Regions from separate parts of the Homo sapiens genome. Here regions 1, 3 and 4 are each linked to region 2. Evidence: fine-mapped expression QTL. A gene starts in region 2. Each other region holds a variant in brackets. All regions are shown on one strand. Distances are from middle to middle.

Evidence for each region. PIP is the estimated chance that this variant, and not a neighbour inherited with it, causes the effect.
Region 1: its variant is fine-mapped to the expression of RHBDD2 in whole blood (TOPMed, PIP above 0.99).
Region 3: its variant is fine-mapped to the expression of RHBDD2 in whole blood (TOPMed, PIP above 0.99).
Region 4: its variant is fine-mapped to the expression of RHBDD2 in whole blood (TOPMed, PIP above 0.99).

The regions. Positions count from the first base shown.
Region 1 is chr7:76,300,171-76,308,274 of GRCh38, reverse strand. It overlaps HSPB1 (heat shock protein family B (small) member 1), which reads right to left and starts at 5,602. Exons shown (of 3, transcript NM_001540.5): 1 at 5,199-5,602; 2 at 4,410-4,473; 3 at 3,983-4,291. The coding sequence starts at 5,562. The coding sequence ends at 4,102. The variant G/A (reference allele first, on the strand shown) is at 3,874.
Region 2 is chr7:75,874,154-75,882,257 of GRCh38, reverse strand. RHBDD2 (rhomboid domain containing 2) reads right to left here and starts at 3,224. Exons shown (of 4, transcript NM_001040456.3): 1 at 2,998-3,224; 2 at 22-429. The coding sequence starts at 3,175. RefSeq lists silencers at 2,844-3,023, 3,124-3,373 and an enhancer at 2,920-3,528.
Region 3 is chr7:76,128,121-76,136,224 of GRCh38, reverse strand. No RefSeq gene overlaps it. Among named protein-coding and RNA genes, the nearest start is that of SRRM3, 70 kb to the left of the region's middle. The variant C/T (reference allele first, on the strand shown) is at 3,863.
Region 4 is chr7:76,001,164-76,009,267 of GRCh38, reverse strand. It overlaps STYXL1 (serine/threonine/tyrosine interacting like 1), which reads left to right. Exons shown (of 9, transcript NM_001317785.2): 6 at 3,864-4,009; 7 at 5,413-5,510. Among named protein-coding and RNA genes, the nearest start is that of TMEM120A, 11 kb to the right of the region's middle. RefSeq lists enhancers at 603-782, 7,963-8,104. The variant G/A (reference allele first, on the strand shown) is at 3,123.

The DNA.
Region 1 (8,104 bases), 430 kb before region 2:
TCCTGCCTAGGCCCCCCAAGGTGCTGGGATTACAGGTGTGAGCCCCTGCGCCCAGCCTGCAGTGCCTTTCTATAGTTTCCACTACACATTTACAGATCAGGGACACTTTTTTTTTTTCCTGAAAGTTTTGCTCTGTTGCCCAGGCTGGAGTGCAGTGGCCTGATCTCAGCTCACTGCAACCTCTTGAGTAGCTGGGATTACAGGCGTGCGCCACCACACCCGGCTAATTTTTGTATTTTTAGTAGAGACGGGTTTTGCCATGTTGGCCAGGCTGGTCTTGAATTCCTGACCTCAGCTAATCTGCCCCCTTCAGCCTCCCAAAGTGCTGCGATTACAGGGGTGAGCCACCACGCCCAGCCAGATCAGGGACACTTAGAGCTATGATGCTGTTCACTATCCCCCATGTCTTGATATGCCCTCCAGGCCCCAGGGGAGCTACACTCAGAGGTTCCCCCCATATTCCCTGGGGGGCAATTTCCCTGGGAGGGGCAGTATGGCAGTGGGGCTTAGCCCCCATATCAGGGATTCTGAGCTTTGAGGGCTAGTGCCAGACTGTCTGAGACAAGCCCAGCCTCACCCGCATCCCTCTGCTCTTCTGCTTTCTTCCTCCTCTCCCTCCCCTGCCAACCCGTGACCTCTGGCACTGTTGCAACCCCCCAGGTCCTGGTGTATGCATGTGGGAATGGTGGGGAGGTGTTTGGGGGGGCCAGCCTGACCCCTGCCCTGCCCTGGGCTCTGCCATGGTGGCATAGGGCTTCGGTGGTCTGGGGCTCTGTGCCTGGGCTGGAGGTGGTTTGGGGCTCTGTCCCTGGGCCGGAGCTCCAGTTCCCCCAACCCTCCTGTCCCTTGGTGGCTCTCCTCCATCACCAAGAGGCTCTTGGGACCTAGCTCTGGGGTTCCCTGTCGCCTTTCTGTGGGCAGCTTTTGCTTCTGTCTCCACCCTCTCAACAGAGCAGTCGAAAGCTGCACCTGTCAAATCCTGTTGATTCTATAGTCGGAGTGATGATGGCGCCTGGAAATAATTCACTCCTGGGCAGCCAAGGCCCGGGGCTGCCTGATCTCACAGACTGTGAGGTCAGCAAGCCCTAGACAACACCCGTCCTGGGGGGGAGGGGCAGTTCCAGGCCTGTCCTGCCTTTTTGTTTGTTTGAGACCGAGTCTCACTTTGTTGCCCAGGCTGGAGTGCAGTGGTGCAATCTCAGCTCGCTGCAGCCTCCACCTCCTAGGTTCAGGCAATTCTCCTCTTTCAGAATTTGAGACCAGCATGGCCAACATGGAGGAAGCCTGACTCTACTAAAAATACAAAAATTAGCCAGGCGTGGTGACAGGTGCCTGTAATCCCACTTAGGAGGCTGAGGCCTGAGAATCGCTTGTACCCGGGAGGCGGAGCTTGCAGTGAGCTGAGATCATGCCATTGCACTCCAGCCTGGCTGACAGAGTGAGACTCCATCTAAAAAAAAAAAGAAAAGGCAGGACAGGCCTGGAGAGGCCCAGAATTGCCCCACCACCCCAGAAGCAGCACAAAGACTCCACAAATCTAACACCCAGCAGAGACCCCCAGATCTGGGCCAGCCTGTCCTGTCCTGCCAGCCAGAGCCCACTATGCCCAGAGGTGCTGCCCCAGGCTCACATCATCTGAGCTGAGCCCTAGAGCGTGGGCTGGGACCTGCTCTGACTCCCCACCCTGCTCCAGATGTGGGTCTCTGGACAGGGAACTCGAGGGAGTAGACTGGGCTGGGCGCAGCAGCTCTCCCCTGTAATCCCAGCACTTTGGGAGGTCAACGCAGGAGGATGGCTTGAGCTCAGGAGTTTGAGACCAGCCTGGGCAACATAGCGAGACTCTGTCTACCAAAAAAAAAAAAAAAATCAGCCAGGCTTGTGGCGCGCTCCTGGAGATGCCTTGAGCCTAGGAGTTCCAGGCTGCAACACTTTGGTATGGTGCACCAAGATCCCACTACTGCACGCCAGCCTGTATGACAGTAGGAGACTGTCCCTAAAAAAGAAGCTGGGGCCGGGCGTGGTGGCTCACGCCTGTAATCCCAGCACTTTGGGAGGCTGAGGCGGGCAGATCACCTGAGGTTGGGAGTTCGAGACCCACCTGACCAACATAGAAAAACCCTGTCTCTACTAAAAATACAAAAATTAGCCGGGTAGGGTGGCGCACGCCTATAATCCCAGCTACTCTGGAGGCTGAGGCAGGAGAATCGCTTGAACCTGGGAGGCGGAGGTTGCAGTGAGCCGAGATCACGCCATTGCACTCCAGCCTGGGCAACAAGAGCAAAACTTGGTCTCAAAAAAGCAGCAAGGTGGTGGGGGGTGATATTGGGGGTGGTGTGGACATGCTCCAGGCCCTCGCCTGCAGGGTGCCACCCTTCTTAGGGAACCTGGGAAAGTCAGACTGTGGGCTGAGAAAAGAACATGGGAGTATTTTTTTTTTTTTTTTTTTTTTTTTTTTTTTCTTCTGAGACGGAGTCTTCCTCTGTCGCCCAGGCTGGAGTGCAGTGGCACGATCTCGGCTCACTGCATGCTCCGCCTTGAACATGGGAGTATCTTGCTACAGCCTCAGACTCTGGGTCCCTCAAATATTTGAGGACCTTGGGACTGAGCTCCAAAGCTCCCATCTGTTTTTTGTTTTTTTTTTTTAGATGGAGTTTTGCTCTTGTCCCCCAAGCTGGAGGGCAGTGGCATGGATCTTGGCTCACTGCAACTTCTGCCTCCTGGGTTCAAGCGATTCCCCTGCCTCAGCCTCCTGAGTAGCTGGAATTACAGGCATGCAACACCATGCCCGGCTAATTTTTGTACTTTTAGTAGAGACGGAGTTTCACTGTTGGCCAGGCTGTCTCGAACTCCTGTCCTCAGGTAATCCACCCGCCTCGGCCTCCCAAAGTGCTGGGATTATAGGTGTGAGCCACCGCGCCTGGTCCCCCATCTGCTTTCTACCTCAACTTTCCCTGGGCCTGGTGAGAGGGTGGCAGCTAGGGCAAGGGCAGACAAGAGAGAGGGGAACTGGGCCCTTGGAAGCCTGTCTACACCTGGAGGGAGGCCAGCTGGAAATAAACACAGGCAACAAGAGCTGCTGGCCCAGCCAGCAGCACAGGTCTGAGCCCGTCGGTTGGCCAGGGCTCTGCCCAATCTCCCCACCCCGAGACTCTGCGGGCTCCGTTCTCACCCCATTTCGGCTTGCCAGTTCCCTTGTGACTGCCAACAGGGATGCCCTGGCCTCAGGGAGTGTGGCGGTGACAGAGATCTCAAAGCTTGCCAGGTCCACTGTGGTGTCCTTGGGGTGTGCTGAAGCCGATGCCAAGCTTTTGACATAGTAATCCTCCCATCAGCTCTGAGGTGCAATTACCTCTGTGCCCCTTCACCTGGGACCCAACCTAGGTGCTCCTGAGAACTCAAGCCTCAGGTGCTTCTCTTATTTCCTCCTCCTTCCCCACCTTACAGTTTTAATTGCAATCGTGACCTTGCAATCATGACCTTTTTTTTTTTTCTTTTAAAGATGGGGTCTCACTCTTTCTCTCTGGGCTTTTGGTTGTTTTGAGACAGGATCTTGTTCTGTTGCCCAGGCTGGAGTGCAATGGCACGATGTTAGCTCACTGTACCCTTCACAACTCCTGGGCTCAAGCGATCCTCCTGCCTCAGCCTCCTGAGTAGCTGGGACTACAGGCGTGCAGTACCACCCTGCCTAATTTTTATTTTTTAGAGACAGTCTTACTATGTTGTCCAGGCTGGTCTAGAACTCTTGGCTTCAAGCACTCCTCCTGCTTCAACCCCCCAAAGTGCTGGGATTGTAGGTATGAGCCACTGCGCCCGGCCCTAAGACCTCTGTCTTTATGGATGTGAGTCAGCCTGTGTCCAGCAACCTACACCAGT[G/A]TACCCACATGGCCCAGCACGGGCCTGAGCAAAGATGACTCCTGAAAGCCAGCAAATGGCAGGTGCCTGAGGCTTCCTTCCACAAACACCAGGGCCTGGGCCAGTGACAGGTGGTTGCTTTGAACTTTATTTGAGAAAAACAGAAGATAAATGTATCAAAAGAACACACAGGTGGCGGGGGAGGCACAGCCAGTGGCGGCAGCAGGGGTGGGCATCCGGGCTAAGGCTTTACTTGGCGGCAGTCTCATCGGATTTTGCAGCTTCTGGGCCCCCAAGCTGGGCCCGCGACTCGAAGGTGACTGGGATGGTGATCTCGTTGGACTGCGTGGCTAGCTTGGGCATGGGGGCCTCCACGGTCAGTGTGCCCTCAGGGGACAGGGAGGAGGAAACTTGGGTGGGGTCCACACCGGGGGGCAGCCTGGACGTGCAGAGAGGAAAGGCAAGCGTTACATTACACACCGGGTGGGTCCCTGTGCCCTCTTCCCTGACCCCACCCCCACGCCACCCACCCACCCCGACCTGGCGCCAGGACTCACGTGTATTTCCGCGTGAAGCACCGGGAGATGTAGCCATGCTCGTCCTGCCGCTCCTCGTGCTTGCCTTTGGGGGGAAGAGGGAAATCAGACTGCGGGGGAGGGGACTGCCTTTCGGCCCCGCTAGGCCAGAGGCCCCACCTCCTGCTTGGAAGCAGCCAGGACTGCAGGCTGGTAGGGATTAACAGAGGGGGTTGGGGATGGGGGCGTGCCCGCCGGTCTGGGCTCTCAGAAACTTCCGGAAAGTTCTTCGATTCAGAGTTTTGGGAGGAACGGAGCAGGGCGCGGAGCTGGGGAGTGAGCAGTACGCAGGCGCACTTGGAGCCGCGCACACGCCCACTCAGCGGCTAGAAACTGGCACCGCGCCAGGGAACTCCCCGCTTATCTGGGGATGGGGCTGTGGGTGGGAAGGGGACTCTGTAGAAAAGCGCATTTTCTCTCTTCATCGATGATCTTTAAAAAAATTTTTGTTTGCTTTTTTTTTGTAATGGCGCGGGGTCGGGGCGGGGGGGCGCGTCTCGCTATGTTGCCCAGGCTAGTCTTGAACTCCTGGCCTCAAGCGATCCTCCCGTCTCGGCCTCCCAAAGCGCTGGGATTACAGAGCAGAAAGCGCCCTTAGAAGCGACCCGCACTCCCAATTCCTGAGCAAGGGAATCAGGAGTCCTGTTTTTCCCGGTGCTGGGCCAACGTTTAACTCCCCAGGCCCCCGGGACCCCCGTTTCAACCGCACGCCCCCGGCCCTGCCCGCCCTGCTAGCCTCCTCCTCTCCCCTGCAGGAGCAGGGGGGCTCACCGGTGATCTCCACCACGCCATCCTTGGTCTTGACCGTCAGCTCGTCCGGGGCGAAGTGGTTGACATCCAGGGACACGCGCCAGCGGTCCGCAGTGTGCCGGATCTCCGAGACCCCGCTGCTGAGTTGCCGGCTGAGCGCGCGGCTGTAGGCGGGCGCGGCCACTGCGGGGCTCTCGATGGCGGCGGGGGGCAGGGGGCGCACGTAGCCTGGCCAGCTGCTGCCGCCTAACCACTGCGACCACTCCTCCGGCAGCCGGGGCAGCCCGAAGGCCTGGTCGAAGAGGCGGCTATGCGGGTACCAGTCGCGGAAGGGGTCCCAGCTGGGGCCCCGCAGGAGCGAGAAGGGGACGCGGCGCTCGGTCATGCTGGCTGACTCTGCTCTGGACGTCTGCTCAGAAAAGTGCGGGGCGCTGGGCTCGGCTGCGCTTTTATGCTCCTCCAGTCGGGTATTTTTAGCAGGCGGTGTTTGAGGTCTCTATTAATGGCAATGACCCGTTTGAGGGCCGCCCCTCCCCATGCACTCCTCCCCCAGCGTTCAGGGGCCGTGGGCGGGGCGAAGAGGGTTCAGCCCTCATCTGGAACCTTCTCTCGTTAAGGAAAGCAAATGAATTCGAGAGCGCGACGCTGGAGCCGTGCCACGGCAGGGCACTCGCCGGCCCTGGTGCTTAAGCGTTGCTGGCTGTGGCCCGTGGCCAGGGCCGTCCTTCTGTTAAGGAGGACAGAGCCAGACAGGTTGGGTTGGGGCATACAACTGAGAAGTGGCAGAGGCAGGATTGGAACCACACGCGTGTGAGATAGAATGTGATAAAAGGAGTCTGGTGCTTGAGCCCAGGAGTTGAGGCTGCAGTGAGCTATGATCTCACCACTGCACTCCAGCCTAGGCAACAGATCAAAGTCTTGTCTCTCAAAAAAATTTTAAAAAGGGGCTGGGTGCATGGCTCATGCCTGTAATCTCAGCACTTTGGGAGGCCAAGGCAGAAGGGTCCCTTGAGGCTAGGAGTTTGAGACCAGTCTGGGCAACATAGTGAGACCCTACTTCTACCAAAAAATATTTAAAAATTAGCTGGGCATGGTGGTGCATGCCTGTGGCCCCAGCTACTCCAGAGGCTGAAGCAGGAGGATCCTTTGAACCCCGGTGAGTAGAGGCTGTGGTGAGCTGGATTGCACCACTGCACTTCAGCCTGGGCTACAGAGCAAAACCCTGTCTCAAAATAAGTAAATGAATAAATACAAATACAAAAATAAAGCAGTCTGGGCTGGGCGTGGTGGCTCACGCCTGTAATCCCAGCACTTTGGGAGACCGAGGTGGGAGGATCACCAGAGGTCAGGAGTTTGAGACCAGCCTGGCCAACATGGTGAAACCCCATCTCTACTAAAAATACAAAAATTAGCTGGGTGTGGTGGCGGGCGCCTGTAATCGCAGCTGCTGGGGAGGCTGAGGCAGGAGAATTGCTTGAACCCAGAAGGCAGAGGTTGCAGTGAGCCGAGATCTCACCACTGTACTCCAGCCTGGGTGACAGAGTGAGACTCCATCTCAAAAAAAAAAAAAGAAAAAAGAAAAAAGCAATCTAGTAATCTGGTGTGGTTGTTAGGCGTGTGGACTTTGAAGCCAGACTGCCTGAATTCACATCTTTGTTCCATCACTAAGCAGATGAACTTGTGCAAGTTAGATTCTTTGTGCCTCAGTTTCCCCATCTGGAAAATAGAGATGATAATGATGGTAACAGTCATGCATTGCATAAAGATGTGTAAGTCAGCAAGGGACAGCAAATATGAAGGTGGTCCCATAAAATTATATTACTGGCTGGGTGCAGTGGCTGACATCTGTAATCTTAGCACTTTGGGAGGCTGATGTGGGAGGATTACTTGAAGCCAGAAGGCTGGAACAAGCCTGGGCAACACAGTGAGACCCCATCTCTACTAAAATTCAGAACAAATTAGCCAGGCATGGTGGCGTGGACCTGTAGTCCCAGATACTCAGGAGGCTGAGGTGGGAGGAGCACTTGAGCCAAGGAGGTCGAGGCTGCAGTGAGCCTGATGGTGCCACTGCACTCCAGTCCGCATGACAGAACAAGACCCTGTCTCAAAACAAACAAACAAAAACAATTACCGTGTTTTTACTGTACATCTTCTATGTTTTATTTATTTATTTATTTATTTATTTTGAGATGGAGTCTCCCTCTGTCGCCCAGGCTGGAGTGCAGTGGCCTGATCTAGGCTCACTCCAACCTCTACCTCCCAGGTTCAAGTGATTCTTCTGCCTCAGCCTCCTGAGTAGCTGGGACTACAGGCAAGTGCCGCGACACTGGCTAATTTTTGTATTTTTAGTACAGATGGGGTTTCACCATGTTCGCCAGGCTGGTCTTGAACTCCTGACCTCAAGTAATCCACCCGCCTGGGCCTCCCAAAGTGCTAGGATTACAGGCGTGAGCCACCGCGCCTGGCCATCTTCTATCTTTAGAAACACTAATACTTACCCTCATGTTGCAGCTGCCTTCAATATTTGGTGCAGTCATATGCTGTAGAGGTTTGTAGCCTAGGAGCAGTAGGCTAGACCATATGGCTTAGGTGTGTAGTAGGCTAGACCATCTAGGTTTGTGTAAGTCCACTCTGAGATGTTCCCACAATGATGAAATTGCCTAACAAGGAATTTGTTGAATGTGTCTGTTATTAAGTGACTCATGACTGTAATGGGTTGGCCTGAGGATTTGGTGACCTAATGCAGGTGATGACTTTGGCCCGGAGCCTGGTACATCATAATTATTGTTACCTGCCTGGGATTGAAGAGAGGGAAAAGGAAGGAGAATACATGGGGTTTGGCCATTTTCCCCCTTCCCCTAACAGCGCAGCTGGCCCAGATCAGAACCTCCATGGCACAGTGCTGAGAGGGGCCAGGAGGAAGATTA
Region 2 (8,104 bases):
GCTCTCTGCTAGGAAGGATACAGGCCAGCCCGATGGACAGCCCGCAGACATTACTGAGGAAAGAGGTCTGGGGAATGAGCCACGAGGCACCCAGCAGGAGCCACGGAACCAGGACTGAGGGCACAACCATGCCAAACACCAGGGCCCGCCTCATCCGAGAACGGACGGTGGTGACTCCCAGCATGGCAAAGGCCACTGGGGTGAAACCTCTGGCATCCTCCACTTCCCCCAGCTTTGACAGTGATGACACAGCCTCGAATGACAGGAAGATGATAGCGGAGAAGATGGCGAAGATCACGGTGAAGAAGCAGTGGCGGACGGTGCCCACGGTTCTCTCGAAATTGCCAGCAAAGCGCCAGATGATGATAGCGCCGCAGAGCAGGGAGATGGGATTCTCGTAGACAAAGATGTAGGTTACCAGCCTGTAAACTGCAGAGGGAGTCGGGTTAGAGGCCTGGCGGCGGGTTGCTCCCAGGAGGGAAGCCAGGTTATAAGCCGCCTAGGAAAGGCAGAGAGCCCCCCTCCGTGACAGAGAAGTGAGAGCCAGTGAGTCGCAGCAGGAGGCAATACAAGCAGTGCGTTCAACAATGAAGGACCCAGAGCCTCAAAGGAGAGGCATGAATATCTAATCCCTACACTTCCCCAGGCCTGGTGCAACTCTTAGCGGTAACTGACTTCCAGAGGGAAAAAAATAATACTTTTCGGTAGAGGGCAGTCTCTGAATTTGTAAAGTGCTTTATAATCCTTTTTCAGGTTTTCATACTGACCTACCTCACTGGGCAGTTTGAGGGTTAATTAAGTGTAACAGCTTCGGGGTGGATTGAGTGGGTGTCACTTAACACTCTGTGTGCCAGTCTCCTCTGCTGTAATCCTGACCCCTCCTTCCATAGTGGCTGTTCAGAGGAAGAAAAAAGGGACCATGAATTATTTTGCAGCTGTAAGAATTATAACACTATCATTAACAATAAAGATTATAGAAATTATAAGTCTCCTCAGAAAGTGCTTATCCGATCTCACAGGTAAACTGATGCTTTATATGTAATAAGACATCAAAGAATCCTCCTTTTCCTTTTTTTAAATTTTTATTTGTAGAGACAAAGTCTTGCTACGTTGCCCAGGCTAGCCTTGAACTCCTGGCCTCCAGTGATCCTCCTGCCTTGAATTCCCAAAGTGCTGAAACTACACATACGAACCATCATTCCTGGCCTTTTATTTTTCTAAAAGCAGTTATCGCCAGGCATGGTGGCTCACACCTGTAATCCCAGCATTTTGGGAGGCTTAGGTGGAAGGATCACTTGAGCCCAGGAGTTCAAGACCAGCCTAGGTAACATAGTGAGACCCCCGTCTTTAAAAAAAATTTAAAAATTAGTCAGGTGTGATGATGTGTACTTGTAGTCCCAGCTACTTGGGAGGCTGAGGCAGGAGGCTCGCTTGATTCCAGGAGTTGAACGCTGCAGTGAGCTATGATTGCATCTCTGCACTCCAGCCTGGGTAAGACGAAGACCCTATCTCTAAAAAAATTTTAGAAGTGGTTATCTCTTAAGTATTTTTATGTCCCTGCATGCCCAAATACGACTAAACTCAAGGAGAGAGACCAAAGAACTGATGGTAATATTGGACTTGGGAGTCTAAAGACTTGGAGTGGAATCTTGGCTCTATTACATCCAGGCTGGCTGAGTTTAATCATGTCACAGGTCCTCTAGGCGTCAGTTTCCTCACTGTAAAGTAACAAGAGTTAGATTGAGGACTTCAAAGGTCCCTTACGTCTCTAACGCTCACATATCCACGAAACCCACACCCAGGGAAGCAGTGAACCCCAGAAAGTGGGAGGTTAAGGTTAGGTTGGCATTTTGCTTCTGTCTGTGAGGTGGTGCTATGTATACCTAGGGTGGGGGGAACAGTTTTAGATTGGAGTGGGGAAGCAGGCTATGGAACCATATACCTCAGTCTGGCCATCACCAGAGGCTTCATTATCTGAAGAGTACTTCATTATTTGTTGAGTATTTCCAAAACTGAAATTCCAAGTATAAACATGAAAAGATTCTAGAAGCAACTGTACATGATTTGGAGATTATCTACCCGAAGGCTCTAGTTCCAAAACATCACAGAATAAAAAAAAAAATATAGATTCCTATCTCAATTGCATGACGCAACAGCTCTGCGATTCTCTGCATGAAACCTCAATCTTATCTAGATAACGGGCCAATAACAGGTCCTACGTCATGGGATCCTTGTGAGGGTTAAACGAAATTAATACATATCAGTGTGTGTGCTTTGCAAAACAGCAGGAGATATGCAAATTTCCTGTGTTCCTCTCGAGAAAATGAGGAAGACACGGAGACTAGGAATGTCTTTCAGGAATGGATGTTTATACTTAATTGGTCTGCAAAATTTCTCTCCCCTAGAGAAAAACAAACACTTCTCTCCAAAGGCAGAAGACACCCTGGTACCCCCATGAGCTGGGAATGGCAGTCAAGATTAAGATACAGATGAAAAAGCAGAAGAAATTCCAAATCTCAAGAGGGCAGGACGTTTATAGGGCTTATAGGGGTTTGTGGATAAAGTCCAATTGTCGTGATGTAGGTGAGAGAAAAACGTTTTTCAGTGGGGCTTAGGCCTAAAGCAGACGTAGGTGTGTATGTGAAATGGGAGGGGGAGACGAAAAATCTTTACCCTTGGAGAGCGAGCATGGATTTGCTAGCGAATGGATTTGGGGCCTTAACCAGTCTGGTGGCGACAGGGAAGGGAACAAATTCGGGTAGGGAAGGGATTACAGTGATGACGAAGATGGGGTCTGCAGACAAAGGTGTGGAACACGGAGAGCAAGAGACGGTGCTGGAGGTCGGTCCTCCGGGGGGCGGGCATGGTGATGAGGACCGAGACAGGGGGAGACTGGCGGTGAGGCCTGAAGGGGCGAGTCCCGGAGGCTAGAGCCCAGGAACCGGCAAAGTCGGAGGACAAGGACTCGCCCCGCGATCCCGGCCCGCCCCTGCTCACCTTGCCAGTTGCGAAGGGCCTCGGACTTCAGCGTGAGGCCCGAGGGCGCCAGGGGCTGCTGCAGCAGGAACAGGCGAGGCCCGGAAACCAGCAGCGAGAGCAGCGCAGTGAAGAAGGTGGCGGATGGCACCTCGGGACACAAGCACCAGCTGCGACACCCGGGCCCCGAGGCCGCCATGGCCGCCGTCGTTCCCGCGCCCCGCCTCGACGCCGGCTGCCGGTCCTCTGCTCCTTCCGCCTCCTCGCGGCAGTTTCCCTTGGCAACAGCAGAGGAGCCGGCCGGAGGCCACGCCTCCCAGAGGCCCCGCCCCATGCCAAGTTGTCCAATCCGGTAGCGCCGATCAGCCCCCCCCCCCCCCCCCCCCGTGCGTGGGAGGCCGGGACGGGGGGAGGGGGGTCGGGGCCACTTCCGGGTAGGAATGTTCCAGCACCGTGTTTGATTCCATCCTACTCGGGCTGGTACTGAAACTGCTCCTATAAACTTTAGGAAATTAATCAGGGAAGAAGGGAGGGGGAAAAACGAAAATAAACGAAGCTTGCAGCACACTCTGCGTTCATCACTAGGTCACCTTGCTCTCCGACCTGCTTGCTCATAGCTCTGTGTATCAGCTATGATAGGTGCCCATCGTCTGTCCTAGAATCACGTAGACCCTGTCACAAGATTACAATTCCCCTTAACTCCATAGATAACAACTTGAACATTATGAAACGTTTTCCCTTGGAGATATTCTTTCAGGTCCCGCATACCAGCATAATTACTGACACCAGTTGTTCTGAAGGAGCCCACAGAAGCAAGACTCAATGGGGACTGCAGTTTCCATATCCTGAGGATTTCAACCCCCTTACCCTGACCAGTCGATGACCCCAATTTTCCAGCCCCTCACCCTTCACAATGCCCTTTAAAATCCCAGCCCGGAACTCCTTGGGGAAGATGGATTTGTTGGTCTCCCTGCGTCTCCTCCTAGGCACCCTGCCATCTTTAAACCCTTTTTCTGCTGATAACCCTGCTTCCTCAGTGTAACTGGTCTGTTATTGCACAGCGGGCCTAGGCACCTGTTGGTCCTGTAATAATACCTCATGATTATTATGCCTTACAGCTCACAGAACTCTTTCATATCACGATCTTCCCATCTGTATTCATCCCTATTACACCAAAGAGGAAACAGGACTAGGGAGGGCCCTGGGTAATTCAGTTACATGGCAAAGACAGAATTAGAACTCAGTTCCTCCTGCTATGGCCCGGAATTGGCCTCCAGTACAGCCAGGGGCAGCTTTATCTTCATATTGAAGAAAAGGGGCAGGAGGCTGGGCACGGTGGCTCACGCCTGCAATCCCAGCACTTTGGGAGGCCGAGGCGGGCGGATCACGAGGTCAAGAATTAGAGACCAGCCTGGCCAACATGGTGAAACCCCGTCTCTAATAAAACTACAAAAATTAACCCGGCATGGTGGCGCGTGCCTGTAATCCCAGCTACTCCGGAGGCTGAGGCAGGAGAATCGCTTGAACCCAGGAGGCGGAGGTTGCAGCAAGCCGAGATCGCACCACTGCGCTCCAGCCTGGGTGACAGAGCAAGACTGTATCTCGGAAAAAAAAAAAAGGAAAAGGGACAGGAAACGGGAGAGGGATTCAATGGAAGGGACTCAAAAGTTAGGGATGTAATAGAACACTCATAACCGAGATCTATTTCAGCACTTTACAGTTTGAAAAGTGCTTTTGCTGGAGAACAGCTGTTTAAGGTAGACCTTCCTTTTTTTTTGACAAGAGTCTCACTCTGTCACCCAGGCTGGAGTGCAGTGGCGTGATCTCTGCTCACTGCCACCTCTGCCACCCAGATGCAAGTGATTCTTGTGCCTCAGCCTCCCGAGTCCCAAGTAGCTGGGACTACAGGTGTGCATCACCACGCCCAGCTAATTTTTGCATTTTTAGTAGATATGGGATTTCACCACATTGGCCAGGCTGGTCTCGAACTCCTGACCTCAGGTGATAAGCCTGCCTTGACCTCTCAAAGTCCTGGAATTACAGACATGAGCCACTGTGCCCAGCAGTACCTTCAAGGGTACTACCTTTTTCGCTTTCTCCAGTGACCCTGCCCAGTACTCCCTCCCCTCACATGGTAGAAGTATTTGGCTCCTTCCCCACACACCCACCCTAGTGTTATCAGCTCCTTGCCCTTGGCTGCAGGCTTTGGTTTGACTCAGCTGTAACTGCTGCCCCCCATAGCTTAGAAGCTCCTGCTGGCTCTGAAGGAAGGAGGCTAAATTTTGGGGCTTGTGTGTCCTGCTTCAGTAGCACAATCATAGCTCACTGCAGCCTTGACCTCCCGGGCTCATGGTATCCTCCTGCCTCAGCCTCCCAAGTAGCTGGAACCACAGGTGCGTGCTACCGCACCTAGCTAGCTGCTTCTTTTTTGTAGAGATGGGATCTTGCTCTGTTGCCCAGGCTGGTCTTGAACTCCTGGGCTTAGGCAATCGTCCCGCCTTGGCCTCCCAAAGTGCTGGGATGACAGGTGTGAGCCACCATGCCTAGCCTGTTGTGTGCTTTTTATGTAGTTACTCATTACATTTTCACAACCCTTGTGAGGCTGGTTCTGTAATTACGCCCGTTTTACAGATGAAGCAATGGAGATACAGAGAAGTTAAGTAACTTAAAATTAGGCAACAAGTCTTCCAGGAATTTTTTTTTTTTTTTTTTGAGACGAAGTCTTGCTCTGTCACCCAGGCTGGAGTGCAGTGCTGTAATGTCTGTTCACTGTAACCTCCTCCTCCCTGGTTCAAGCAGTTCGCTGCCTCAGCCTCCTGAGGCACTTCCCATATTATACTATCATTGCATATTTGTGCCCGTAATTGTGAGCTTACCAAGGGCAGAAGCCATGTCTGATTTATACCTGTGTCTGTATCCACAGCCCTGGCACCTAGCACACAGTGGGGCCACAGAAAATGTTCAATGCAAAGTTATTAGCCCTGATGCCTTTGGGATGTGACCTACTTCCCTTCCTTGTCTCTTGTCCAGAAGCCGAGGGTTCTCACGTAATTGAGACCCCTGGGGACTGTTATAACAACAGCCACCATCCCGAATGCATTTCACACTGAATTTCTGGCAAGAATTTCAAGATATTTTTTGAAGAGGAGACCTGAGGTACACCAGTCTAGGATGGCATGGCCAGTCAGCCCACCTAGCTCTCTGTAGAAAGAGTTTTCTGCATTTGCTGTGCAGAGGGTTTAGGCTCGGAGAGGGCAGTTGCAGGAGATATTCACGTTTCCCTTAAGGGAAACCTAGGATTGCAGGTGTGAGACACTGCACTTTTTTTTTTTTTTTTTGAGACTGAGTTTCGCTTTTGTTCCCCAGGTTGGAGTGCAATGGTGTGATCTTGGCTCACCGCAACCTCCGCCTCCCCGGTTCAAGCGATTCTCCTGACTCAGCGTCCCGAGTAGCTAGGATTACAGGCATGCGCTAGCATGCCCGGTTAATTTTGCATTTTTAGCAGAAACGGGGTTTCACCATGATGGTCAGGCTGGTCTCGAACTCCCGATCTCAGGTGATCCGCCTGAGATCTCAGCCTCCCAAAATGCTGGGATTACAGGCTTGAGCCACCACGCCCAGCCCACTGGGCCTTTTTGTTGTTGTTGTTTGTACAGACAGAGGTCTCACTATGTTGCCCAGGCTGGTCTCAAACTCTTGGGCTCAAGTGATCCTCGTGCCTGGGCCTCCCAAAGTGTTGGGATTCCAGGCATGAGCCAAGCCAAAAACCAGGAGATAAATACCATGTTATACTGGCCATTTCCTTTAATGTTCCCTTAAAGGAGACATTAATGGCTCCTACATTAGCATTTGAGAAGCAGCCAGTGTGGAGCTGGTGGAGCTCAGGCTGGAAGTCAGGAGGAAGCAGGACCTCACCCTGGCTCTTTCACTCGCTGCCTGAGTGATCTTGGGTAAGGGAGCCTCAGTTTCCTCATCTATAAAATGGGAACTAAGTCTTATCTTGCAGGGTTTTGATGAAGAAAACAGATAAGATTGACCGAGGGACGAATAGGATGTGAGGAGGTCACACTGTGAGTTAGTGGAAGAGCTAGGATTTGAACTTGGGTCATTAGATCTCTAAAGTTGTTCTATTTCTTTTTATTTTTTTGAGACAGAGTCTTACTCTGTCGCCCAGGCTGGAGTGCAGTGGCGTGATCTTGGCTCACTGCAACCTCCACCTCCCAGGTTCAAGTGATTCTCCTGCCTTAGCCTCCCCAGTAGCTGGGATTACAGGCACATGCCACCACGCCCTGCTAATTTTTGTATTTTTAGTAGAGACAGGGTTTCGCCATGTTGGCCAGGCTGCTCTCAAACTCCTGGCCTCAAGTGATCCATCTGCCTTGGCCTCCCAAAGTGCTGGGATTATAGGCGTGCGCCACTGCACCTGGCCAAGTTGTTCTATTTCTTTTTTTTTTTTGAGACGGAGTCTCGCTCTGTCGCCCAGGCTGGAGTGCAGTGGTGCGACCTTGGCTCACTACAAACTCTACCTTCCGAGTTCACGCCATTCTCCTGCCTCAGCCTCCCGAGTAGCTGGGACTACAGGCGCCCGCCACCACGTCTGGCTAATTTTTTTGTATTTTCAGTAAAGACGGGGTTTCACCATGTTAGCCAGGATGGTCTCGATCTCCTGACCTCATGATCCACCTGCCTTGGCCTTCCAAAGTGCTGGGATTACAGGCGTGAGCCCCTGTGCCCAGCCAGGTTGTTCTATTTCTACCACTACACACATCTCTACCATGGCAAGTATAACACGGTATTTACTTCCTGGTTTTTGGCCAGTCACAGCAGCTCACGCCTGTCATCCCAGCACTTTGGGAGGCCCAGGCAGGAGGATCACTTGAGCCCAAGAGTTTGAGACCAGCCTGGGCAACATAGTGAGACCCCTGTCTGTACAAACAAACAAACAAACAAACAAACAAACAAAAAAGAAAGGCTGGGTGCAGTGGCTCACACCTGTCATCCCAGCACTTTGGGAGGCCAAAGCAGGAGGATTGCTTGAGCCCACAAGTTAGAGACTAGCCTTTGGACAACATAGTGAGACCCCCATTTCTATTATATTTAAAAAAATATTTTTAAAAAAATCCTGTTT
Region 3 (8,104 bases), 250 kb before region 2:
AAATATTGCTACTATAACTATTTATGTACAGAATTTTGAGTAAATAGCAGTTTTTATTTCTCTAGAGGAAATACCCAGGAGAGGGATTGCATGGTTGGATGGTCATCGTATGTATACAGTTTTATGAAACCTGTTTTCTCTAGTGTCTGTACTATTTTGCATTCCACTAGGAAGGTATGAGGGTTTTAGTTGCTCTGCATCCCTGCTACCACTTAGTATTGTCAGTATTTATTTTTTTTCTGAGGTGGGGTCTCACTCTGTCACCCATACTGGAGGGCAGTGGTGTGATCTTGGCTTGCTGCAGCTTCCACCTCCCAGGCTCAAGTGATGCTCCCACGTCAGCCTACTGAGTAGCTGGGACCACAACCATGCACCACCATCCCTCCCTAATTTTTTTGTATTTTTTTTTGGTAGAAACAGGGTTTTGCCATGTTTCCCAGTCTGTGTCAGTATTTTCTATTTTAGCCAGTCTAATAGATTTGAGTGATATTTCATGGTGGTTTTAATTTGCATTTCTTTAATGATTGAACAATGTTGAACAACTATTCATATGCTTATTTGCCACCATGTCAGTAACTGCAAGGGACCTGAATTTTGAGTTCTCCCTACTTAAACGTAGCAAGTTAGTCTCCATGGTTTCATGGATATTGGCCCAAGACATGAAACTCCTGGGTTGGAGGCAAAAGGGGAGGACACAGGTCACAGGACATCAGCAGAACCAGCCTCATGTCCACGTGGACTACCTTTGCCCTGTAAGTTCCCTGTGGGCAATGACACAAGTAGGAAATCCAAGCTCAGGGAACTCAGCTCTCATAAGGGGTGGCAAACAAATGTTTCAAACCTTTGATATGAAGGGAGACATTATATTTACTGTACTGGACAGTTAATAAATTGTCTTCTGCTGTGGAAGGAGCTATCATCTTTCTCTTGTAAGGATGTTCAATATACAAACATCTTTGACTGGACAGTATGTAGCAAAGGACTCTCATGGAAATGTGGGACACCGGTGTGTATAACTTCTTTGGTAAAGTGTCTGTTGAGATTTTTTGCTCATTTTTAAATTGGGTGGTTTGTTTTCTGACAGCTGAGTTTTGAGAGTTCTTTATACATTCTGGGTACGTAAGTTCTTTGCCAAATAGGTGATTTGCCATTATTTTCTCTCATTCTGTAGCTTGTCTTTTCTTTTCTTTTTTTTTTTTTTTTTGAGGCAGAGTCTCACTCTGTCATCCAGGCTGGAGTGCAACTTATCTCGGCTCACTGCAAGCTCTGCCTCCTGGGTTTATGCCATTCTCCTGCCTCAGCCTCTCGAGTAGCTGGGACTACAGGCGCCCACCACAATGCCCGGCTAATTTTTTGTTTTTTTAGTAGAGACGGGGTTTCACCGTGTTAGCCAGGATGGTCTTGATCTCCTGACCTCTTGATCCACCCGCCTCAGCCTCCCAAAGTGCTGGGATTACAGGCGTGAGCCACCGCGCCCGGCCGTCTTTTCATTTTCTAAACAGTTATTCCCAGAGCAAAAGTGTTTTGTTGTGTTGCCAAGTTTGGTATACAGGTTCTGTGGGCTGTGGCTTTAATGTCAGTCCATTGTTGGGAGTTTTGTAGTGCTGTTTCCATCTGTTTTGTGTATGTGCTGATCTGATGAGACCTGCATAGTGGTCTCTCCGTTAGTTCCAATTTGGAAACCTTTGGTACTGAATAGCATCAGATCCATGCATATGCAGCCTAGGGGTAAGCCTAGAAATTGCTTTCTTGAGTTCTCCTCAGCAATTTTTCCCACACTTTTTGTTCCCAAAGGGCTCATATTTTCTTTCTTTTGTCCAGAAAACTGTGGATTTAGTTACTCCACTCTGCCATGTCCTTCCACCACTGCCTGCACATTTGAGACCAAGGATAGAGATTGGGAAAAATCCATAGTTCTCCTGACTCAGAGTTTGGCTCCGGCACTCTCATTTCAGCCATAGCTGCAGACAAAGCACACGACTGCTGGGCACTGTGGCTCAAGAGAAGGGGGAGATGGTAAGTGGGGGATCCCCATATTCTCTCTGGCTGTTAAGAGTTTCTTTTCACATGCCTGGAGCCCGAACTAGAGGAGCTTTCTCTGTGCTGTGGGGCCCATTTCCAGGTTGGCTGGTGGTATTGGATGGGAGAAAGTGGTAATCTGTTAGACGGCTGGGTGATACTTTCAATTCTGGTCTTCCCCACTTCTCCATTTTGCTTTTCAGAATCCTCAAAAGTAGTGCACATTGCATACTGTCAGGTTTGATAGCTGGTGACTTTCCATCTGGACTCAGTAGCTTCGAGTTTTAAAAATCCATCATGATTTGACTTCCCACCTAACTTCTTTAGTTTATCTTCTGTCTATACTACATCATTCATATTTTACATTTGCCTTCCTGCTTCTGAGCTTTTTGTGAAAGGCATTCTTCCTGTCCAGAATATCCTTCCTCTTTCTGTCATCTTTCCAAGACCCTTTCAACACAAGGCTCTTTAAGGTCTATCACCAGCATCCCCAAGTGGTCTCTCTGTACTCCCTAGGTCAGAATTTGTATGTGCGTTACTCCCCAACAGTTTCCTAACACTTTCTCTTTTTCCGTGTTTTTCAGTCTGCGTGTACTTTTGGTTATGAGCTTCATGAGGGCAAAGACGTGTTCTATCAGTTGCATCACCAGTGCCATCTAGCTCAGTTCTCTGCACACAGTTGGCACTTAGTAAATGTTTGAGTTAAATTAATGAGACCTCCAAGATATAGGGCCTAATTTTATCTGCACATGTGAGTCCCTTGAATGAATGCTGTAGAGTGCTGCTTTTTTACTGTGCTTGTTTGGCAGTTTGTTATTGTGGAGAAGAATGAGGACCATGTGGTTTCAGTTTGAAAGGAAATTGTTGCGTAGCGATTTACCATGCAGCTGTGAGACTATGAACAAATGACTTTAAATATTATACAGTAGAAAAGAAAATTGACTTTGGAAATTATGGTATTATTTCAATTTTTTTCTCTTCTCTTCTTTCTGGACAAGGCCTCGCTCTGTCACCCAGGCTGGAGTGCAGTGGTGTGATCATAGCTCACTGCAGCCTGCACCTCCTAGAGAGGCGATCCTCCTGTCTCAGCCTCCCGAGTAGCTGGGACTACAGGCATACACCATCACACCTCGCTAGTTTTTGTATTTTTTTGTAGAGATGGGGTCTTGCTGTGTTGCCCAGGCTGGTCCTGAACTCCTAACCTCAAGTGATCCTCCCACCTTGGCCTCCCAAAGTGGCATGAGCCACTGTGCCCATACTGGGTTTGTTTTTTTTTATTTACAGTAGCCGTCCTAATGGGTATGAAGTGATATCTCATTGTGGTTTTGATTTGCATTTCTGTGATGATTAGTGATGTTGAGCATTTTTTCACATGTTTGTCGGCTGTTGGTATATCTTTGGAGAATTGTCTATTGAAGTCCTTTCCCATTTGTTAACCGGATTATTATTATTATTTTTTTGTTATTGACTTGTAGGAGTTCCTTTATATTCTGGATATTAACCCTTTATTAGATATGTGGTTTGCAGATATGTTCTCTCATTCTGTGTGTTGTTCCTTTTTACTCTGTCAGTTGGTTCCTGTGTTGTGCAGACGTTTTAAATCTTGATGTAATTAATGTATTTGTCTGATTTCACTTTTGTTGCCTGTGCTTTTGGTGTCATATCCTAGAAGTCATTGCAAAATCCAGTGTTGGGAAGCTTTTCCCCTAAGTTTTGTAGTTTCCAGCCTTTACGTTTAGGTATTTAATCCAATGTTAGCCCTTTCTTAATGGGTTCTGTGTATTTTCGGCAGGGAATAAGTCTTTAATATGACTGTTTCAGGAATTTACCATAGTTAACTTTT[C/T]TTTTTTCCTTCTTCCTTCCTCCCCTCTTTCCCTCCCTCATTCCCTCCCTCTTTCATTCCCTTCTTCCCTCTCTTACAGCTTGAAGATAATGGAATCACTCACTTTTTGTTCATAATTGGTAAGATTTTAGTTGGTAGAATGATAATTCCTTTTCAACAGAACTTTGTTATTTGTTCATTGGTTAGCAGGAAGAAGATGAGCCTTAAGTCTGAACACTGAGGAATTCATGTGCATCAGTCAGACCTCCTGTGCAAGGAAGGATGTGGTTACTACGGCAACCCTGCCTGGCAGGGTTTCTGCTCCAAGTGCTGGAGGGAAGAGTACCACAAAGCCAGGCAGAAGGAGATTCAGGAGGACTGGGAGCTGGCGGAGCGGTAAAAGGACTTAACTAGGGGTAGTTGAACAGTGACGTGACTGGATACATACTTCTGTCACCGTCCAGATACATTTTTTTAAATTTCTGCTTTGACCTATCAGCAAGTCAGTTTAAAATTAAGGAAAAGGATGTTTTCTCCTCTTCTTCTCAGTCAACCTTTAATGAACAGCTTTCAATAGTTTCTTCATTTTGTGTATGTCTTAACTTCTGATTATATTCTTTGGGTTGTGTTAGTTCTCAAATTTAGACAATAAGCTCCTTGGAGTGGAAGAATGGAGATAGGCATATTTCCCGGTGAAGATTAAATGAGCTAATAAATATGATGTACCCAGTGCAGGGCTTGCAAATGGCACTCATCAAGCATTATTTCCCTTGTTCTTTTAATATATTCAGCGTGGCATGTAGCTCAGTGATAAAACACAGTAGTAGAAATCTGTTGACTTGTATACATAGTCCTTGCATTATAGAAATTTAACTTTTCCTTAAAAATTAGATTAGTCAAAGGCAGTTTATATTATCTGGAAATACAGTGATGTTAAAAATTAAATAATGAGCCAGGCGCAGTGGCTCATGCCTGTAATCCTAGCACTTTGGGAGGCTGAGGCGGGAGGATCACTTGAGGTCAGGAGTTTGAGACCAGCCTGACCAACATGGTGAAACCCCATCTCTACTAAAAATATTTAAAAAGTTAGCCAGGCGTGGTGGTGCGCACTTGTTATCTCAGCTACTCAGGAGACTGAGGCAGGAGAATTGCTTGAACCCAGGTGTTGGAGGTTGCAGTGAGCCGAGATCGTGCCACTGCACTCCAGCCTGGGTGACAGGGTGAGACTCTGTCTCAAAAAAAAAAAAAAAAAATTAAATGATGGGATGGCTAGTGAGCATAGGAACTAATAAAATGCCATGAATAATGTTAATTCTTTGCCAGAGCATTTTGGAAATTCTAAAACTGCTTCAACAGAAGAAAGTCAAATGGAATTCTGCCAAATCTTCTTGGTAGTTTTTTTGTTTTTTTCATCCAGTCAGCCAATATTTGTTGAGTGACTATTTTGCTGGCATCTGTGGTGAACTCAGAGAATTAGAAATTACACATTGCTTTCAGTGACTGTGGTCAATCAAAGAGAAAATTTTAGCCCAGAACATGAATGATCTCCTCAGGGTTTCCACTGCATGCCTGATGCTGTCAGTAGCAGATCCTGTTTCAAAAACAGTAGAGGGCACTAGGCACCAACTGCCTCAGCTTCCTCCCCTTGCCACATAAAAATGTACTAATACCTTTATATTAACTTCTTGTCTGTTCCAGAGAAAGAGGTGTCCTGATTCCATCCTCAGACTTAGCACCTCCACCTGTGATTTTTGTTTCTATTTCTTACTGCTTTTAATTGTGACCCTGCTAAATCTCTTGGAAAGCTTGTAAAAGCAGTGATTGCTGGACCTTACCCTTAGAGTCTCTGATTTTAGTAATTTGGGAGTAAGACTAGAGAATCTGCATTTCTAACAAGTTGCCTGGTGATGCTGCTGCTGCTGTCTGGGGAATCACACTTGGAGAACCACTGTCTTATAGATAGTGCTTGGTTTTTTGTTTTGTTTTGTTTTGAGACAGGGTCTTGCTCTGTCACCCCAGCTGGAGTATAGTGGTGCAGTCTCAACTCACTGCATCCTCTGCTTCCTTGGCTCAAGTGATCCTCCTGCTTCAGCCTCCCAAGTAGCTAGGACTACAGGAGCATGCCACCATGCCCAGCTAATTTTTGTATTTTATGTAGAGACAGGGTTTCACCATGTTGCCTAGGCTGGTCTCAAACTCCTGAGCTCAAGTGATTCAGCCGCCTTGGCCTCCCAGCGTGTTGGGATTAAGGGCGTGAGCCCCCGCACCCGGCCTGTGTTTGTTATTTATTACAGATGGTTCACATGCAGCTAATCCGAAGCCAAATTTATTGCTTTTATTTATTATTCTCCCCATTCTGAACATTTTCCTCCTAACCCTTCTCGTGAGTCAGTTAATGGCGTCATTCTTTACCAAGTTAGCTAAAAAACCTTGGTTTCACTCTTGATTTCTCTTTAACCTCCCTTGGCACCTACAATTTGACCAAGTTCTGTTTGTTCCAACTTAGAAAAGTCTTTTGAATTTTACCTTTTCTACTCCTCTTTTCCAGGTATTTATTTTCTTTTACTTAAACCTTTATAATATACTCTTAATTCCTGTCCATGTCTCTGGTTTCTCTATCCTTCAAGTTGTTCTTACAGCTACCTGCATGATCTTTCTAAAGCACAGATCTGACAACAATAACTTTTTGGATTTACAGTCTTTCTTGCTTCCCCACCGCATGATGAAATCCAGAATAGGCTTAGCAATGGGCTTAGCAATCAAGATTCCCTACCCTCTGGTGCCTTCCTGTGTAGCCAGCATCACAGTTCATCACACGCCAGTGCTCTGGCTACATTCAGCTTGTTGTGAAGCAAACCACAGGCTTGCACATTCGTAGTTCCTTCTTCCTGGAATGTCCTTTCACGTAGAATCCTAATCATCCTTATCAGTCAGGCGTGGTGGTGTGTGCCTGTAGTCCCAATAACTTGGGAGGCTGAGGGATGAGAATTGCTTGAACTTGGAAGGCAGAGGTTGTAGTGAGCTGAGATCGTGCCATTACACTCCAGGCTGGGTGATGGAGTGACACACTGTCTCAAAAAAAAAAAAAAAAAAAAACAGAAACAAAAAAAGGATCCTGTTTGTCCTTTAAGACTCACCCCAAACAGCACCGTTGTAAAGCCTCATCAGACTCCTCCAGCAGATTGCGTTGTTCTTTTCTGTGTTCTCACAGCACTCAATTTTTACTCTCTGATGTAGCAGCTGTCCCATTATATAGCAGTTGTTTACTTACCTTTTTGTTTGTTCCAACCTTGAGCTTGTTAGGGAAAAGGACTAGACTTTCTTTATTTCACTGAGCTTGTTGGGGAAAAGGACTAGACTTGGTTTCTTTCATGTAACCCTAGAGCAGTTGCTGAATGAGCATGAGAAGATCCCATTTGAAATCTGTAGTGCATGAAGAGCAGTCCATCCTGTAGCTATGTGAGACCTCAGACTGATTTTGCATATTTAGTCTCTAGTTCTAAAATCTTTAGATCCTCCTGAATAAATGGAGTAATAACCTTCAGATACAGAGAAATCTTGGAGAATATCTAGATCATTCTAATCCTCTCTTGAATTGCAGACTCCAGTGGGAGGAAGAGGCCTTTGCCAGCAGTCAGAGCAGCCAAGGGGCCCAATCCCTCACATTCTCCAAGTTTGAAGGAAAGAAAACCAACGAGAAGACCCACGAGGTTACCACAGTGAAGAAATCTTCAGTGCGTCTTCCAGGGTCGGATCAAAGAAGGGTAATGTTCTGATACTCTTTTTTTTCTTCTCTGCCTGAGTGAGACACAGAGTAGATCCAAAATGCTTATAGGCTCAGCTTTGTAATTTCTGTCAACTTTTTGAGAACATCAGCTCAGATTTGAGACTGAAATTGGGTTTGAGGGTCAGACAATATATGAAACCCATACTCTCTTTGGTCAAAAGACATTGTGTTTTAGAGAAATTTGTTTACTCTGTAGGAGGAGTCAAGAGAATTGAAATAGGTAGTTTTGTTTATGAAATTCATGCCTATCCAAGTGACTGTCTCTTTGGATGTTTTGTTTTTTGTGCATTTGTGGATCTTGGTTTGTTCTGTGGCATAATACCCTCACTGTTCATAGCTTGTCAGAAATGGTGATTTCTAGGCTTGAAAGTCATCTGAGAGAGAGATTTTCTGCCCGAGAGCTTATTTGAGAGACAGCTTGTGTCTTGGGGAAGTGTATTGAGAGCATATAGGAAAAAGCCCACGTTGGGCTCTTG
Region 4 (8,104 bases), 130 kb before region 2:
GGAAGAAGGAGGTGGTTTTGGGGGAAGGCAGTGTGCCCAGTTCGGGCATATTCATTTGAGATACTGGTTTCGTTTGCATTGTGTCACTGAGCATTTACACACATTCTACAGTACAGTGTGTTTTTATCCACATCACACCCTCTTCCCAGCCAAACCCACACAACCGCAGAAAAGGAAGCTGGTTTAAAAACAGCAGGAAGAGGGGTTGATAGATTTGCTATGGGATTTTTGTGGGGTTTTTTTTGTTTTGTTTTGTTTTGGTTTTTTTTTGAGATAGCATCTCTGTTGCCCAGGCTGGAGTACAGTGGTACAATCTGGGCTTACTGCAACCTCCACCTCCTGGGTTCAAGTGATTCTCCTGCCTCAGCCTCCAGAGTAGCTGAGATTACAGGCGTGTGCCACCACGCCTAATTTTTATATTTTTAGTAGAGATGGGGTTTCACTATGTTGGCCAGGCTGGTCTTGAACTCCTGACCTCAGGTGATCCACCTGCCTCAGCTTCCCAAAGTGCTGGGATTACAAGCATCAGCCACCATGCCTGGCCTTTTAGCGAGATTTTTAAGTGGAAATTGAAAGGGGGATTTCATTTGGCACCAGCAAGCTGAGCGTCCATCCGGGTTAGGGGCAGCCCACATGCTGGAGTAAATTGGGCCTGCCCGCAGGCAGTGGGGGGTCATGCATCTCCGTGTCACAGGCTGGAGAACTGGCTCAGCTTGGTGTCTGTTCTTTACTAATGGCTTTCGAAGCTGGTAGCTTGGGAAGGATGTGGGCTTGCAGAGGGTTCACTGCCGTGGGGAAGGGAGTGAGATGTGCTGAGTTCAGGTGGCTCTGAAGGACCCACACGCCTGAGGTCCTTAAAATGTTATTTCTGAGTCAGACTTAGAGCCAGGGGACTTTTGGAACTGATTTTGATCTTTGGCAAAGGTCAGCATTTTCTGTGGTGTAATAATGGAGAAAGTGGTCTCTAATCAGAGCCTCATGGAAACATCAAGTTATCCAGTTGGAGTGGATTTCTCTACTGCAGAGCTTCTTTGAGATTTTTTTTTTTTTTTTTTTTTTTTTTTTTTTGAGATGGAGTTTTGCTCTTGTTGCCCGGGCTGGAGTGCAATGGCACAATCTTGGCTCACTGCAGGCTCCACCTCCTGGGTTCAAGTGATTCTCCTGCCCCAGCCTCCCGAGTAGCTGGGATTACAGGCGTGCACTGTCACACCTGGCTAATTTTTGTATTTTTAGTAGAGACAGGGTTTCACCATGTTGGTCAGGCTGGTCTCAAACTCCTGACCTCAAGTGATCCACCCACCTCAGCCTCCCAAAGTGCTGGGATTATAAGCATGAGGCACTGTGCCCGGCTATTTTTTTTTTTTTTTTTTTGAGAGACAGGCTGGAGTGCAGTGATGCGGTCATAACTCTCTGTAACCTCAAACTCCTGTGGGATCCTCCCACTTCAGCCTCCTGAGTAGCCGGGAGTACAGCCATGTGCCACCATGCCTGGCGAATTTTTTATTTTTTGTAGAGACAAGGGTCTTGCTGTGTTACCCAGGCTGGTCTTGAACTCCTGGGTTCAAGCGATCCTCCCACCTTGGCCTCCCAAAGTGCTGATATCACAGGCATGAGCAGCCACTGTGCCCAACTTCTTTGAACCTTTGATTGCTAATGTACGTGTTGTTTCCGAGAGAGGAATCATAGATACAGCTGTCCGTTTGTACAGTTGTCCAGTATCCATGGAGGTTGGTTCCAGGGCCCCCAATAGATACCAAATCCTTGGATCTTCAACTCCCTGATACAAGATGGTGTAGTATTTGCGTCTAACCTAAGCGTATCGTCTCGTATACTTTATTTATTTGAGACAGAGTCTCACTCTGTTGCCAGGCTGGGGTGCAGTGGCATGATCTCATCTCACTGCAACCTCCACGTCCCAGGATCAAGTGATTCTCCTGCCTCAGCCTCCCGAGTAGCTGGGACTACAGGCATGCACCATCATGCCTGGCTAATTTTTGTGTTTTTCGTGGAGATGGGGTTTCACTCGTTGGCCAGGTTGGTCTCAAGCTCCTCACCTCAGGTGATGCGCCTGCCTCGGCCTCCCAAAGTGATGGGGTTACAGATGTGAGCCACCTCACCTGGCCCCTCTTGTGTATACTTTAAATCATCTCTAGATTATTTATAATACCTAATACAATGTACATGCTATGTAAATAATTGTTATACTGTATCGTTTAGGGAATAATGACAAGAAAAAAAGTCTGTACATGTTCTGTACAGATGCAACCATGAATTATTTTTCTGGATATTTTTCATCCAAGGTTGCTTGAATATATGGATGTGGAACACACAGATTGCATTTGGTTATCTGAACCCCTGAACCCTTTTCTCATAGTGCCTTATGGGGGACTAGTGTTTCTTAGAACACACTTTGGGAAATGTAGAGATAATCCTTGTCTGTGTTTCAAATAAACGAAAGTTTTTTGTTGTTGTTGTTGTTGTTTTGTTTTTTTTTTTTTTTTTTTGAGACGGAGTCTCATTCTGTCGCCCAGGCTGGAGTGCAGTGGCACAATCTCAGCTCACTGCAAGCTCCGCCTCCCAGGTTCATGCCATTCTCCTGCCTCAGCCTCCCAAGTAGCTGGGATTACAGGTGCCCGCCACCATGCCCGGCTAATTTTTTGTATTTTTTAGAAGAGACGAGGTTTCACCGTGTTAGCCAGGATGGTCTCGATCTCCTGACCTCGTGATCCGCCCACCTCAGCCTCCCAAAGTGCTGGGATTACAGGCTTGAGCCACTGCGCCCGGCAAACGAAAGTTTTAATGATAACTTTGGACCTGGAACTCAGGAAGCTCCCATTTAAGTAGGTGTCTTGTTCTCTCTACCCCTCTGCACATACACTGGCTTCATTTCTGGGCATGCAGGGTGGCTCACATGTGTATCCCAACACTTTGGGAGGCTGAGGCAGGAGGATCACTACAGGCCAGGAGTTCGAGGACAGCTTGGGCAACATAGTGAGACCCCATCTCTACAAAAGATAAAAGTATCAAAATTAGCTGAGTATGGTCATGCGCACCTGTAGTCCCAGCTACCTGGGAGGCTGAGGTAGGAGAAGCATTTGAGCCCAGGAAGATAAGACTGCAGC[G/A]AGCTATGATTGAGCCACTTGCACTCCAGCCTGGGTGACAGAGTGAGAGACCCTGTATCTTTAAAAAAAGAAAAGAAAAGAAAAAGATGGGTTGAGCACAGTGGCTCACGCCTGTAATCCTAGCACTTTGGGCAGCCGAGGCAGGTGGATTACTTGAGGTCAGGAGTTCAAGACCAGCCTGGCCAACATGATGAAACCTCCTCTCTCCTCCTCCACCTCCTCCCTCCTCCTCCTCCTCCTCCTCTCTCCTCCTCCTCCTCCTCTCTCCTCCTCTCTCTTCCTCCTCTCTCCTCCTCTCTCTTCCTCCTCCTCTCTCTTCCTCCTCCTCCTCCTTCTCTCTCTCTCTCGATGCTTAAATTCTGGTGGTCTTAAGAGAGCTGTCCCTCTCCATCCTCCTGAGCCCCCAGTACATGCTGGGTTGTTACAGTTCTGGGCCACAGCGTCCTCACTGCAACCTTTGTGCACCTGGCCAAGTGTAAACAGTTGCCACGGAGGGAATGGACACCAGTGCTGAGACCCAGCGCTCTGCACGATGAGGCTCAGTCCTTTCGTCATGACTCGCCCTGTGCCACCCCATGCAAGTTACCGTGTGCCAATCTCTTTCAAAGTCTGGATCTCCGTCACATTCACTGTCCTGGAACTGCCCTTTTACGCTCGTTTGCTGAGCTGTGTTTCAAGAGATAGACATCCCTCTTCCCTGAGGAATATGCTCATAGCTGCCTTTCTCCCTCCACACTTCAGGAACTGGATGCATTTCAGCCATACCCCATTGAAATCGTGCCAGGGAAGGTCTTCGTTGGCAATTTCAGTCAAGCCTGTGACCCCAAGATTCAGAAGGACTTGAAAATCAAAGCCCATGTCAATGTCTCCATGGATACAGGGCCCTTGTAAGTAAAGAGAAACTACTGATTTATATTTCATTTTATTTTTTATATAATATTTAAATTTATTTTATTTATTTTTTTTAATTTTATTATTATTACACTTTACGTTTTAGGGTACATGTGCACAATGGGCAGGTTTGTTACATATGTATACATGTGCCATGTTGGTGTGCTGCACCCATTAACTCGTCATTTAGCATTAGGTATATCTCCTAATGCTATCCCTTCCCTTTAGTTTTTATTTTATTATTATTATTTTTTGAGACGGAGTCTCACTCTGTCACCCAGACTGGAGTGCAGTGGCACAATCTCGGCTCACTGCAAGCTCCGCCTCCTGGGTTCACGCCATTCTCCTGCCTCAGCCTCCCCAGTAGCTGGGACTACAGGCGCCCGCCACCACGCCCAGCTAGTTTTTTGTATTTTTAGTAGAGATGGGGTTTCACCGTGTTAGCCAGGATGGTCTCGATCACCTGACCTTGTGATCATCCCGCCTTGGCCTCCCAAAGTGCTGGGATTACAGGCATGAGCCACCGCGCCTGGCCTATTTTATTATTTTTTGAGATGGGGTCTTGCTCTGTCACCCAGGCTGGAGTGCAGTGGCACAATCTTGGCTCACTGCAACCTCCGCCTCCAGGGTTAAGTGATTCTCCTGCCTCAGCCTCCCCAGTAGCTGGGACTAAAGGTGTGTGCCATCATACCCGGCTAATTTTTGTAGTTTTTAGTAGAGACAGGGTTTCAAAATGTTGCCTGGGCTGGTCTCGAACTCCTGACCTCAAGTGATCTGCCTGCCTTGGCCTCCCAAAGTGCTGGGTTTACAGGTGTGAGCCACCATGCTTGGCCAAGATAGGTACTTAAAAAAATTTTTTTGGCTGGGTGTGGTGGCTCACACCTGTAATCCCAGCACTTTGAGAGGCCAAGGCGGGTACATAAGCTGAGGTTGGGAGTTTGATGACCAGCCTGGCCAAAATGGTGAAACCCCATCTCTACTAAAAATATAAACATTAGCCGGTTGTGGTGGCACATGCCTGTAATCCCAGCTACTTGGGAGGCTGAAGCAGGAGAATCGCTTGAACCTGGGAGGTAGAGGTTGCAGTGAGCCGAGATCGTGCCACTGCACTCCAGCCTGGGCAACAGAGCGGGAATCTGTCTCAAACAAACAAAAAAAAAGACAAGGGTCTCGCTATGTGATCCTCCCATCTCTGTTTCCCAAATTACTGGGCTTATTCATGAGCCACCACACCCAGCCTGGATGTTTTTTTCCAGGAGAGGTTGAGTTACCTGTGCACATTCCCCCTTACACAAGCTCAGCGTCCTCCCTGTGGCCCTTCTGCTGTGATGAAAACCCCACAATGGGGATGCCTGCATTCTGCATTCCACCTGATGACCTGTGTGGTCCTTCCGTGTAGTTTTGCAGGCGATGCTGACAAGCTTCTGCACATCCGGATAGAAGATTCCCCGGAAGCCCAGATTCTTCCCTTCTTACGCCACATGTGTCACTTCATTGGTAAGGAGCGTTCCTTGGCCGGGTAGCAACTGGCCTGTGTCTGGGAAGCAGAGGGGCAGTGGAGCCTCCTTCACAGGCTTATTCTGGACCGTGATTTCCCCATGCTCTAGAGAGAAAGGGCCCAGCTCGGCATATGCTCCATCTGGGTGGGACAAGCTCCAGGACACGTCCAACTTCTGGGGAGCCCTCAGTGAAACGAGCAACCGTGGTGTTTACCTCGGGGGCAGTGGGGCCCAAGGCTCTGGCCCTGGCTAGATGGCTGTGCCCTTCTGGGCTTGTTGTAAAATGAGAGTGATGGCTACCCACAAGTGCACATGCTCATGGAGGCTCTGGGCTGAGCTCTGGGGACCAGTAGTAAATCTATCTCTCTCCATCCCCGCCTTCATCCTTGGTCTGTGGGATGTCGGTGGAATGGAAGGAAGACTACAAAGCTCTTTCAGTTCTGACTTCCAAGATTTTCTTTGTTTTTGTTTGTTGGTTGGTTGGTGGAGTTGGGGTCTTGCTATGTTGCCTAGGCAGGTCTTGAACTCCTGGCCTCAAGCGATCTTCCTACCTCAGCCTCTCAAGGTGCTGGGATTATAGGCATGAGCCACCACACCCAAGTGATGCCCACCAGTTACTTAACTCATCAAGAGTGGATTTTTTACTCATTCCTGGGGCTCCAGATTGCCAGAGGAGAGTAAGATCTGTAGAGAGAGCAGGGCTGAGTCAGGTCAGAGTCCCCACCCCATGCCTGCCTGTCTGGCACCAACAGCTCCTGGCCTGAGCCACTGTACCAGGGGCTGGAGCATGGCATTTTGGCCCAACCATCCCTTATTTTAAATTTTATTTTTCGAGACGGGGTCTGGCTTGTTCACCCAGGCTGGAGTGTAGTGGCACAATCTTGGCTCACTGCAATCTCTACTTCCTGGGCTCAAGCAATCCTCCTACCTCAGCCTCCCAAGTAGCTGGGACTACAGGCATGCACCACCACGTCCAACTAATTTTTGCATTTTTAGTAAAGATGGGGTTTTGCCATGTTGCCCAAACTGGTCTTGAACTCCTGAGCTCAAGCAATCCACCCACCTCAGCCTCCCAAAGTACTGGGATTACAGGCGTGAGCCACCACACCCAGCCCCAACCATCCTTTATTTGCCCAGTAGATGTCAAATGTTGCTCAACCAGGGCCTGAGGCTGAGACTTCCCATGTGTCCCACCTCGAGATGGCAGAGCCTTGTGGCCCAAGGAGGGACCCCATCTAGCCTGCCTCCCTGGGTAGCACTGAGCCAGTCAATAAATTAAACTGCATGCTCAGTTCCTTTATTCAGATGGTGAGGAAGGTGGCCATCGTCATCTCTGCGTCCTTCTTCAGCCCTGGCAGTCTGTGATTTTGCACTTGGTAGGCTTATCTTCAGTTCCTGAGGGTTGCCAGACCAGCCTCGGGTGCCAGCTTAGATTTCCTCTCCCTGGGCAGGACTCACAGCTTCAGGGGTGCTGTGATTAGAGCTGATATTTCTGTGCCAGGCACTGGGCTCAGCACAGAACAAAACCAAACTGTATGAAGTAGGTAGTATACTGTGATCCCGTTTTCCAGATGAGGACACCGTGGCCTCAAGTAACTTACCCTCCAGCCCGGGCAACATTGTGAGACCCCATCTGTACAAAAAAGTTAGCTGGATATGGTGGCACATGCCTGTGGTCCCAGCTACTCAGAAGGCTAAGGCGGAGGGTTACTTGAGCCCAGGAGTTCAAGGTTGCAGTGAGCTGTGATTACACCACTGCGTTCCAGCCTGGGCAACAGAGCAAGACCCAGTCTCTAAAATAAAATAAATAAAAATAGGCTGGGCACAGTGGTTCTTACCTGTCATTCCAGTACTTTGAGAAGCCAAGGTGGGCAGATCACCCGAGGTCAGGAGTTCAAGACCAGCCTGAACAACATAGTGAGACTGCATGTCTATATTGAAAAAAAAAAAAAAAAAAAAAAAATCAGGCGCAGTGGCTCATGCCTATAATCCCAGCACTTTGGGAGGCCAAGGCAGGCAGATCACCTGAGGTCTGGAGTTGGAGACCAGCCTGGCCAACATGGTGAAACCCCATCTCTATTAAAAATACAAAAAATTAGCTGGGCGTGGTGGCAGGTGCTTGTAATCCCAGGTACTCGGGAGGTTAAGCCAGGAGAATCACTTGAACCCAGGAGGCAGAGGTTGCAGTGAACTGAGATTGTGCCACTGCACTCCAGCCTGGGCAACAAGAGTGAAACTCTGTCTCAACAAAGAAAGAAGGAAAGGAGAGAGAGGAGTAGAGAGGAGAAGAAAGGGGAAAGAAGAGAGGAGATGGGGGAAGGAAAGGAAAGGAAGTAACTTGCCCAAGCCCCACGGCCAGTGAGTGGCAGTCAGGATTGGCACTCAGGCTACACTGGCTCTGTCAGCTCCTGACTGTTTTTGGGATGACGATGGTCCTGTCCGCCCCATACTGGGAGGCCAGTTGGTAGCAGAGCTTCCTGGGCTAGAAACCTGGAGTTCAGGAGAAGGTCTTTGCCTGGTGATGCTGGTTGCCCAGGCATGATTCTCTGGAACTTCCAGCCAGGTCTGAGGGATGCCCACTTGCTAGACAAT